Linked DNA regions of Homo sapiens. The protein of the gene in region 1 purifies or fractionates together with the protein of each later gene. This does not show direct contact. Each region holds a gene or a part of one and is shown on either strand. Other genes may lie near its edges. The genes, in order: NKAIN1, TMEM63B and LRRC8D.

Region 1 (3,651 bases):
CTCCACCTGGGAAGAGAAGGAGCTCATTACTGACTCAGAGCTGGAAGGGTCCTTTGAGATGATGAGTCCAACCTTTTCCCCATACAGAGCAAGAGAGAGGCCCAAAGAGGCCACGCCTTCATCTTGGAACCCCTCTTAGTGAGTGGCAGCCTGTGCCCACGGCTCTCCCTGCATTATCTCAGGTTGCCCTCATTATAGTCCTATGAGGTGGGTGCTATTATTATTCCCATTTTACAGAAGAGAAGACCACGGTCCAGCAATGCCAAGACCACACAGATGAAGAAGAACTGCTGCTCCAGCTTGAGCCTTCCATTCATTGAGAAAGGGGAGTCATCTCATTTCCTACCCCACAGTACTCGGATTGCAGAACCTGCAGCCTCATATCCTGGGCATTCAAGAGTGTACCCCCTTTGTGAGCTCCCACTCCACACGTTTTATTTCAAAGGAGCCTCCCAACAACTCTCTGAAGTAGATGATCATTATCCTGATTTAGAGAAGTGCAAGTGGAAGCTCAGAGAGGTTAGGTGTCTTCTTGCTCAAGGTCATCCAGCTACAAAGAGGCAAAGCTGGAACTCAAATCCCAGCCTGACCCCAAAGCCCGGGTTCTTCCCAGTTCCCAGTCCACCTCCTTGTCTCTGGATTTGTCAGCTGCTTTGAGAGGGGCCAGGAGGCCAATGTAAATCAGGAAAACCTGCAACCACACTTAACGGCTCTTCTAAAACCTTACTGCTCATTCAGTGCCTCTAGGGGAAGTTTGCTTTGCTCTCTGAAGCTCTCCCTCATCTGTGAATCAATCGACATCCCTCTCCAGGCCAGGGCAGGGAAAGCCAGGCAAAGCACTGGGACTTGGCTTCCTGGGCCTAAACCCAGCTCTCCCCCCATGGCCTGGATCTAGTGTTCAATTTAAAAAATGTTTTTAATTTTTAATTTTTGTGGGTTACATAGTAGGTATATATATTTAGGGGGCACATGAGATATTTTGATATAGGCATCCACTGTGCAATCGTCACATCAGGGTAAATCAAGCATTTATCCTTTCTTTGTGTTACAAATAATCCAATCATACTCTTTGGGTTATTTTTTTTTTTTTTTTTTTTTGAGACGGAGTTTTGCTCTTGTTGCCCAGGCCGGAGTGTAGTGGCACGATCTTGGCTCACTGCAACCTCCGCCTCCCAGGTTCAAGTGATTCTCCTGTCTTAGCCTCCTGAGTAGCTGGGATTACAGGTGCCCGCCACCATGCCCAGCTAATTTTTTGTATTTTTAGTACAAATGGGGTTTCACCACGTTGGCCAGGCTGGTCTCAAACTCCTGACCTCAAGTGATCCACCCGCCTCGGCCTCCCAGAGTGCTGGGATTACAGGTGTAAGCCACTGCACCATCCAGTTATTTTTAAATGTACAGTAAATTTCGTTGACTGTAGTCACACTGTTGTGCTATCAAAGACAAGATTTATTCATCCTATCTAACCATGTTTTTATACAACCTCCCCACTCCCCGACTACCTTTCCCAGCCTCTGGTAATCCTTATTCTACTTTTTTTTTTTTTTTTTTTAATAGATGCAGGGTCTTGCCATGTTACCCAGGCTGGTCTCCAACTCCTGAGCTCAAGCAGTCCACCCACCTTGGCCTCCCAAAGTGCTGGGATTACAGGCGTGACCCACAGTGCCCAACCTCCTCATTCTACGCACTATCTCCATGAGTTCAATTGTTTTTGTTGTTGTTTGTTGTTGTTGTTGTTGTTGTTTTTGAGACGGAGTCTCGCTCTGTCACCCAGGCTGGAGTGCAGTGGCGCCATCTCAGCTCACTGCAAGCTCCGCCTCCTGGGTTCATGCCACTGTCCTGCCTCAGCCTCCCGAGTAGCTGGAACTACAGGCGCCCGCCACCACGCCCGGCTAATTTTTTGTATTTTTAGTAGAGACAGGGTTTCACAGTGTTAGCCAGGATGGTCTCGATCTCCTGACCTTGTGATCCGCCCGCCTTGGCCTCCCAAAGTGCCGGGATTACAAGCGTGAGCCACTGCACCTGGCGAGTTCAATTGTTTTAATTTTTAGCTCACACAAATAAGTAAGAACATCTGAAGTTTGTCTCTCTGTGCCTGGCTGGAACTAGCTTTTTTTTTTTTTTTAATTTTTTTTGAGACAGGATCTCACTGTGTTGCCCAGGCTGTAGGGCAGTGGTGCAATCATGGCTCACTGCAGCCTCAAGCTCCTGGGCAAAAGCAATCCTCCCCTCTGCCTCAGTAGCTGGGACTACAGGTGCATGCTACCATGCCCAGCTAAGTTTTTACCTTTTTGTTTTTCTTTTTTTGAGACGGAGTTTCGCTCTTGTTACCCAGGCTGGAGTGCAATGGCGTGATCTTGGCTTACCACAACATCTGCCTCCCAGGTTCAAGCAATTCTCCTGCCTCAGCCTCCCGAGTAGCTGGGATTACAGGCATGAGCTACCATGCCTGGCTAATTTTGTATTTTTAGTAGAGACAGGGTTTCACCATGTTGGTCAGGCTGGTCTCGAACTCCTGACCTCAGGTGATCCACCTGTCTCAGCCTCCCAGAGTGTTGGGATTACAGGCATGAGCCACCGTGTCTGGCCTACTTCATATATATATATATATATATATATATATAGAGAGAGAGAGAGAGAGAGAGAGAGAGAGAGAGAGAGAGAGAGAGAGTGGGGGAGGTCTCACTATGTTCCCCAGGCTGGTCTCAAACTCCTGGGCTCAAGCGATCCTTCCACCTTGCCTTCCCAAAATGCTGGGATTACAGGTGTGAGCCACCGCACCTGGCCTGGAACTAGTTTTTAAAAATACACCTGTAGCCTTAGTCTGCCTTCCTGTCACCCATCTCTCCTTAATACTAGAGAAGAGTAGTTTGGGAGTCTCCTACCACATAGAATAAAAAAATACAAAATAAAAAATAAAAGGACTGACTAGAGGAGACAACATGTTCCAGTGATCAGAGCTGACTATCTCTGCTTGGTCCAGATTTTATAACAATTGTTCTCAAACCCTTTCCCCTTGATGACTACTCTGAGGCTCAGACTATTATCTCCTGTTTCCTTGGAGAGATGTCATTTTACCCTTCTGAGCCTCAGTATGTCCATCAGTTAATGGGTATAAAAACCACACCTATCTCATAGAGTTGTTATGAGGATGGATCACTTGTAGATACAGGTTACTTTATTCCCTGGTTTTCTCAATCTGTATCACAGCTCCTTGGCACACTGCAACCTCCGCCTCCCAGGTTCAAATGATTCTCTTGCCTCAGCCTCCCGAGTAGCTGAAATTACAGGTGCCCACCACCACGCTCGGCTAATTTTTTGTATTTTTAGTAGAGATGCGGTTTCACCACATTGGCCAGGCTGGTTTCGAACTCCTGATCTCAAGTGATCTGCATGCCTCGGCCTCCCAAAGTGCTGGGATTACAGGTGTGAGCTACCGCACCCAGCCGTGCATCACAGCTCTTTTAAGTCCAGCACAGAGCTTGGGGGTGGGTAGAATGGGGAGAGGGGGCATCTGTGTAAGCAGTTAGATCTGGCATCTGGTAACAAGCCCTGTGGCTGAGGAAAGGTTTGGATTTCTCCACCTGCTTCCACTCCAGCGTCCCACAATACTAGCAGGGGGCAATGGGGCATGCAGGGAGAAGCTGTGGA
Region 2 (3,651 bases), on another chromosome or scaffold:
ACCCAGAAGTCCTACTATTTACTTGACTTCCTACTCTGACCCATCGTCGAACCTAAGCCAGTTATATTGAGTTCAAAACTCTAACCAAATGAAATCATGCCATTTTTTCTAATAGGCATAGAAAGAAAAGATCAGGATGAGGCAGCTGGCTCCTGACCCATTCTCCCCTGACGTGGAGACCCCTCATCTTACCCTTGAGTCCTCAGGCCTAAGACCCCTCCCTGTCTTCCCAGGCTCAGCTCCGCCCCCTGCCCTAAGACAGAGAGAATGAGAGTGTGGGGGTGGCGGCGGCAGGGGGGATTTAGATAGATGTTAGAAAATCACAGATACCTTCCAGCTTAATGAAACCAGCCTCCCCAGTCCAGGCCTGGCATCTAGACTGAGTTCCCCAGACCCAGGGTGGGGTCATAGCCAGAGAGCCAGTGAAGGTAAATCCATGTGACTCAACTCTCCCCTCCCTAGGCCCTTATCTCCAGAGGCCAGAGCTTCCATCCACCCAGGCAGCCTGGTGATCTGTCCTCACTGCCCCCTCCCCACGCCCACCCTACTGGGCCATGAAGGGGATGGGGGCAAGCCCAGCTGACTGCTCCACCCTCTGCCCAGGAGGACCATGCGGCAGTAGCAGCCATGCTGCCCTTTCTGCTGGCCACACTGGGCACCACAGCCCTCAACAACAGCAACCCCAAGGACTACTGCTACAGCGCCCGCATCCGCAGCACTGTCCTGCAGGGCCTGCCCTTTGGGGGCGTCCCCACCGTGCTGGCTCTCGACTTCATGTGCTTCCTTGTAAGTGCCTGCTGCCACCCCTTACCTTGGCATCCATGCCCTGTACACACCTGGCAAACACTTCCAGCTCTAACCACTCTCCCACCTGCCCCGGTTTCCCAGGCTTAAGCAGGAGGAGTCCCCATCATCCAGCCCAAGCCTCGCCTTTGACCATTCACCCAAGCCAGGGTCATCCCCTTCTAAGACAAGATTTTGGACCCTCTGCTTCTGCCCCCTAGTCCAGCAGGTGGACAGACAGCCTCTGCACTTGCCAACTGCCCCCTCTTCCCTCAGGCACTGCTGTTCTTATTCTCTATCCTCCGGAAGGTGGCCTGGGACTATGGGCGGCTGGCCTTGGTGACAGATGCAGACAGGTAAGGGTCTGGGACCCTCCCTCTAGCTCTCCACACACACATCTTGTTCCACACTCCTCAGGAATAGGAAGGAGCCAGCCCTCTCTCATTCCCCTTTGCTGGGGGGATGAGAAGGGACTAGCCCCAATGTGGGCATGGGGGCATGAGGGCCCTAAGTTGGGCCCCTGTTCCTCACCTGTCCCCAGGGACTCTCCCCCGCCCCTGCTAACCCTGTCTGTTCTCTGTCCCCAGGCTTCGGCGGCAGGAGAGGGACCGAGTGGAACAGGAATAGTATGTGGGGCACCAGCCCCCTCATTCCCACTAAACCAGCTTTCCCTTTTCTTCTCTCACGCTTCTCTTCTCTTCCTGCCAAGTTGCTGGTTTCTTTTTGCAGTTTTCTCCTCTGCAGGCTCATGTTTCGGATTAACGCAGGCGGTGTGCTTTGCAGAGCAGGGGGCTCCCCAGCTTGTCTCTGCCTCACCTCCCCTTCATCTCTCCCTCTGGCTCCCTGCCTGGGAGAAGTCCCTCCCTGTGTGCCCCTGCCTATGCAGCCCTTGTTGGCTGGAGGGGAGGGGCTGTCCTCCAGGAAATCCTCAGCACAATCACGTAGAGACAAGATTGGGTGTCACCAGCAGCTTCTTGTCCGCTAACAGCTAGTTCTTCATATTCCAGGGTTCCCTGCTCACCTCTTCTGGAGGCCTGGGAGGAGGGCTGCCCAAGGAGCCCCCCAGTCTGGGCTTTTTTGTCACTTTGTCATCTCTGTCTATAGGATTGGAGTTGGAGTTGTAACAGCTGTTGGAGTCAGGGAAGAGGGAGGGGAGCGGAGGGTAGGGTCCCACCCAGGAGACCTTCCAGTCTCCCCAGCCCTTCCAGGTTCTCCTGGTCCATCCTTTCCTCCACCTCCTCATTGCTCTTTGCATAATGTTGGCTCCGTTGCCCGCCCCCGGCCCCTGCCAGTCAACTCTGGAACTGCAGGGCCCTCTGGCATTCTCGCTTCAGCCTCCTTAGGGAGATGATGAAGATTACCTCCTCCCTCAAGTCCCCACTGCCCACCATCAGTGCCCACCTCCGCTCCCACCCTGAGTCCCCCTGAAAGGAAGAGGCATATTTGAGGGAAGCAGGGTAGAGGGCAGTCATTCCTCTCTGCTTCAGCCTCTGCGCTTCCTGTGCCTTCTGTGCCTTCTGTAGCCCTGGAGCTCTGGAGCACTCAGCCCAGCTTCCCGGGGGCTCAGACTCACCAGGCTCTCTGATCTCTCATCTCCCTCACCCCCAGTGTGGCTTCAGCTATGCACGGGGACAGCCATGACCGGTATGAGCGTCTCACCTCTGTCTCCAGCTCCGTTGACTTTGACCAAAGGGACAATGTGAGTGCCCTCCCCCCAAACTTCTTAGTCCCCCACCCCACCCCCAGGGCACATGGGCTGAGAAGTCCCTCACTTTCAGTGATGTGGAGTCAGGGATGCTGGTTTGGCCTCCTCCTCAGCAAAGAAAGTGATTCAACCAAGGAGCCACAGGATGACCCCCCAGGCCCTGAACTCCTGGCTGCTGTCCTCTATGTCACAGTCTCCAAACTAGCACAGCCTTAACATTCATGAATTCCCAACTTTGTTTGCCATAAAGAGTTTTGTGCCCACTTCTGCTGATTAATCCTAAGGCCACCTTTTTTCCGTAGTCATGGTTTTAGAAATAATAATAAGCCCTTGGCTCACGCCTGTAATCCCAGCACTTTGGGAGGCCGAGGCGGGAGGATCACGAGGTCACTAGATGAGACCATCCTGGCTAACACGGTGAAACCCCGTCTCTACTAAAAATACAAAAAATTAGCCAGGCGTGGTGGTGGGCGCCTGTAGTCCCAGCTACTTGGGAGGCTGAGGCAGGAGAATGGCGTGAACGCGGGAGGCGGAGCTTGCAGTGAGCTGAGATGGCGCCACTGCACTCTAGCCTGGGTGACAGAGCGAGACTCCATCTCAAAACAAACAAAAAAAAGAAATAATAAGCCCTCCAGCCCTGCCTAGAAAAACAGAATCTGTCATGTTGCTCGGAGGTTGCAGGTGGGTGGCCCCTGGCCATGTGGGGCCGGTTGACCTGCTTGTGGATTGGAGCTGAGTGGCAGTGGTCCCTTTTAACAAGGCATATGAATGGCAATTCATAACAGACTCCAGACCCCTTTCATATCAGACCTAACACACAGGTGTTACCTGCCTGGCTCTCCATCATTAATTCCATGAGGGTAAGGAGCCTAGTCAGAACTCTAATCCTCAGACATGGTGTGGCCCTGGTCAGTCCCTCTTGGGCTGCAAGTCCTAGGGGTGGCAGCTCTTCCAGCAATTCCAGCAGAAGATGGCCTTCAGCTTCCTGAGTTGGACTCATACTGGTAGGTGGCAAAGTTGTCACATCTGCTAGCCAGAAGTGTCCAGATGGTCCCCAGACTCAGGTGATGTTGGCAACAGGTAGCATGGTCCTGAATCACGGCCGAAAGGCACCTTTCTACCCCATCCTGTGTTATGTCTGGACCTTCTGCTGGATGGAGTTT
Region 3 (3,651 bases), about 59 Mb from region 1:
GTGTTTGTCTTTAGTGAACGGAGTTAAAGCAATATTGCACCAATTAAGCAAAGTAAATTAAGACCCCTCAAAAAAGGTGATATAGTAAGAAAATGTCAATTTAATCATTTACTTTAGCAGGCAAGCAATTTGTAAACATTCAGTAGCGGCAGCATCCAAGTTACAAACAATTTAAAAAGAACCAAGATTAGTGATTATAATTTTTCCTTCCCTTTCCCCAAAAGAAAAAAAAAAATGATTTGGAAATGAATGACTTAAAACCCTACAAACATTGAACATTCAGTTATGTCTTCTATCAGCCTTCTATGCATCCTCTCTGTTTTATTTTAAAAGATGTATCTACTCCTAAAATGCATTATCTTGTAATAACTTGTACGTGAGCACTTGCAATCTAGGAAGTTGTTCCTGCACATCACTGTGCATATATTATCTTAGTTTAAATCCCATTTGCAAAGGGAATATTTATGTCTTGATTCAATGCCTCTTTGACTTCGAGTGGCAGGGTATCAAAAAGGTGATCTTCCACAACAAGCCCGCTTTTCTTGAGCATCCGACACTGGCCCAGCTGGGCTGGCAGGCGGTCCAAGCAGTTCCCCTTCAGCTCCAGCTGAGTGAGCTGGGAGAGCTGACCAACTTTCTCTGGGAGTGAGGTGATGCAGTTCTGTCCCAGATTCAAAGTCCTCAACTTTATGCATTTAAACAATTGTTTTGGCAGAATGTCCACTTTGTTCCCAGTGATATGCAAATGCTGCAGGTTCTGAAGCAATCCTATTTCTATTGGAATCATTGAAATGTTGTTGTAGCTCACATCTAAGCATCTGAGTTTCTGTAAACTAAATACTGCCACTGGTAAGGATTCGAGCTTGTTGTTAGAGAAATAAAGTGACTCCAAGTTTTTGACATGGGTAATAGAGGGAGGAATAGTAACAATTTTGTTATGCCATAATTTTAAACAAGTCAGTCGTTTTAAATGCTGGAAACTGATGATTTCCTCAATTGTGCGAATGTTATTGGACTTTAAATCCAGTTCCTGTAAATTAGAGAGGCTGAAAATAGCATGTGGGATTCTCTCTAGCTCACAGTTCTGGAGTTCCAGCTCAGCGACATTCATCATTTTCTTAAGGCTGTTCAGTACCAAGAGTTTAGTGCCGTCATTATGAATGACTAACTTTGTAAGATGTGGAGCCACATCTGTAATGTTGGAGGGAACTTTGGTCAAATTGCTCTTCACGTGGAGAATCTTAAGGTGCCGCAACTCTCGGAGAGATTCAAGTCCTATCATCTTATTGTTTTCAGAGTTCAAATTGCCTATTAAGTACAACTCTCGAAGGTTTTTGAGCAAATACACCCAGGCAGGAATTTCAGCCACATCAGTGAACTTCACGTGAAGGCATCTCAAGTGATCGCGAAGAAAGCTAAAAGCAGTCTGTTCAACTTTTGCAGGGCAGTGGCAGAGGTGGAGCTCTTGGAGGTTAGTCATTTGAGAAATCTTAGCAGGAATTTTAGCTTCTGGAATTAGTTCAAGCTTTAGCACATCCAGGTCTGTGAGGTCAAAGACAGCATCGGGCACCCCCGACAGCATGAACAGATGCAACTCCTGCTTGTCCTGGGCGTTGCGTGAAATGTGCTGCCTGAGTTTTTCAAATGTCCACTCATGGTTCAAACTAATTTCCCTAAGTTTATTTTCACTAACTTCTGACAAGAACACACCAAAACGCTTGGAATATAGCTGGTCATACTGGTCTACCATGTGAAGAAGGAACGCAAAATCGTTTTTGACATCTGGAATGTCACTAAAACTGCTCTCTTCTCTGACTTTTTCGAAAGAATATTCCTTCAAAGGTATCCTGAATAACCAGAAGAGAGTGTAGAGGCAGATAAAGCCATAAACACAAATAATGGATATGTAACTGATGAGAAGCTTTTTCAACATGTAAGCCATATTGTGGGTGCACTCAAATACCTCATAACCAATCAGATGCTCAACTTTGGGCTTGCAGACGTGTTCAAAGCTGATTGCGTTGACAAAGTTCGCTGTATAGCAGAGAATAAAAATGAACTTGGCTGTTTTGATAACTGTTTGGACCACATAGAGTTTATAGATCAAGTCACTATCTTCCACATGGGCACGGAACTTCCTCACTTTCTCAAACAGGGCTTTGGCCTGCTCTCCATCCTTTTTATCCAGGATTGTCATGCTGGGAACTTCAATCACAGGCTTCTCAGCTGAAAATTTAAAGCCAGTTTTATTGATCATTGGTGTACTGGCACTGGGGCTCCCTTCATCACTGCTGGTAGAAACATGCTTTGGTAGAGTCTGGGCACCTGTTATTCTCTGCTTGTTTTCCTCTGAGTCTTCGCATGCTGTCTCAGACAACGCTTTTGTCGTCCAAGGGGATTCAAAGCACTTTCCTAATATTGAAACAAAATGTTCTACTTTTGAGCATGTTTTGGGATATTTGAACCAAAAGTTGCTACTGACCATGAGAATAATAGTATGTATAAGAGCTAGGTATGGAAAGTACTTAGAATACCACGGAAGGGCCAGATGGTAACACATTTGATTAATAAATACATATTGCTGAAAATCCAAGTTTGTTTTTCGACCTGTTGGATCTTTCTTCTCTTTCTTTGCCTCCTGATTTGGAAGTGCGAAATCTGTGCGAGGATATGTGGCTCTGAGAGGTATGTCAGGTGTCACAGCAGATGTCCCAAAGGAAATGTCGTTTGTTGTCCGCCCATCTTGGTCTTGGTTGGTGGCTGCTTCCATCTTTGGGATGTTGGTGGTGACCTCGGCATTTCCTGGTGGTGTATGTGCCTTTGAATTTACAGGAGATGGCAATACTGGCAAACAGACCACCTGATCTTTGGTAAGTTGCATGGTTCCTGCAAAGATGGCTACCATTAACATAACAACAGCTAGGTAATCCATAAACACATCCCACCATGGTTTCAGGATTCGGTAAGTTGGCTGAATGTCATTAAGTGATGCAACTTCCGCAAGGGTAAACATTCCTAGAAAACAAGAAGACAAAAGACATTATTCTAGAGATGCAAATGAAAAGAGTAAATGAGAAAAACCCTATGCCTGCTCCTAACTAAAGTTTTCTCATTCAGGTCCTATCTTTTTATCCAATATAAATGTAGTAGAAAATAAACTAAAAGGGGAATATACAGCTTTTCTCTCCTAGTGCAAGGGAAGAGGGAAAGAATGAGTAAGAATTGCATTCTAGGTAAGAAATTATGACAGACTGCACCAAGTCCATAGTGGTTACTTAGTGGACCTTGAAGGAGGGTATGACAGCAGGATGGCATTTGTTGTGGACTCATTAAAGGTTAAGACTGAAATTTGGAGGTCAAGGAGTGGGATGACTCTTATTTTGTATAAGCCAAAATTGAAAGGTCTGTGTATACCATTAAATACCGTTAAACTTTGGATAGTCTTATGTTCCAGACTTAGTTCTAACACTTACTAATGGTTGATTCCTTAAGCCTTGTGTATTTCCCATCTGTATAATAGGGATGAAAACTTCTAAGGGTTGTTGGAAAGGTTAAATTAAGTAATGATTGTAACGCTCTTAGCACATCCTCTGGCCACAAGTGTTTGTTAGCTGTTTACGTTAGCTCCAATCACTCTGGTGGAAGTGTCCA

Evidence for each region.
Region 2: the proteins of NKAIN1 (region 1) and TMEM63B purify together in Homo sapiens (affinity purification with mass spectrometry; one large-scale study listed by BioGRID and IntAct). This does not show direct contact.
Region 3: the proteins of NKAIN1 (region 1) and LRRC8D purify together in Homo sapiens (affinity purification with mass spectrometry; one large-scale study listed by BioGRID and IntAct). This does not show direct contact.

Annotation. Positions count from the first base shown.
Region 1 is NC_000001.11:31,229,802-31,233,452, forward strand, and holds part of NKAIN1 (sodium/potassium-transporting ATPase subunit beta-1-interacting protein 1 precursor), read right to left. Parts: intron 1-3,651.
Region 2 is NC_000006.12:44,133,958-44,137,608, forward strand, and holds part of TMEM63B (mechanosensitive cation channel TMEM63B), read left to right. Parts: intron 1-462; exon of another isoform or gene 463-603; coding exon of another isoform or gene 604-627; coding exon 628-786; intron 787-1,059; coding exon 1,060-1,139; intron 1,140-1,370; coding exon 1,371-1,409; intron 1,410-2,391; coding exon 2,392-2,482; intron 2,483-3,651. UniProt on the Homo sapiens protein: Mechanosensitive cation channel with low conductance and high activation threshold. Osmosensitive cation channel preferentially activated by hypotonic stress.
Region 3 is NC_000001.11:89,932,431-89,936,081, reverse strand, and holds part of LRRC8D (volume-regulated anion channel subunit LRRC8D), read right to left. Parts: intron 3,016-3,651; 5' UTR 3,014-3,015; coding exon 437-3,013; 3' UTR 1-436. UniProt on the Homo sapiens protein: Non-essential component of the volume-regulated anion channel (VRAC, also named VSOAC channel), an anion channel required to maintain a constant cell volume in response to extracellular or intracellular osmotic changes.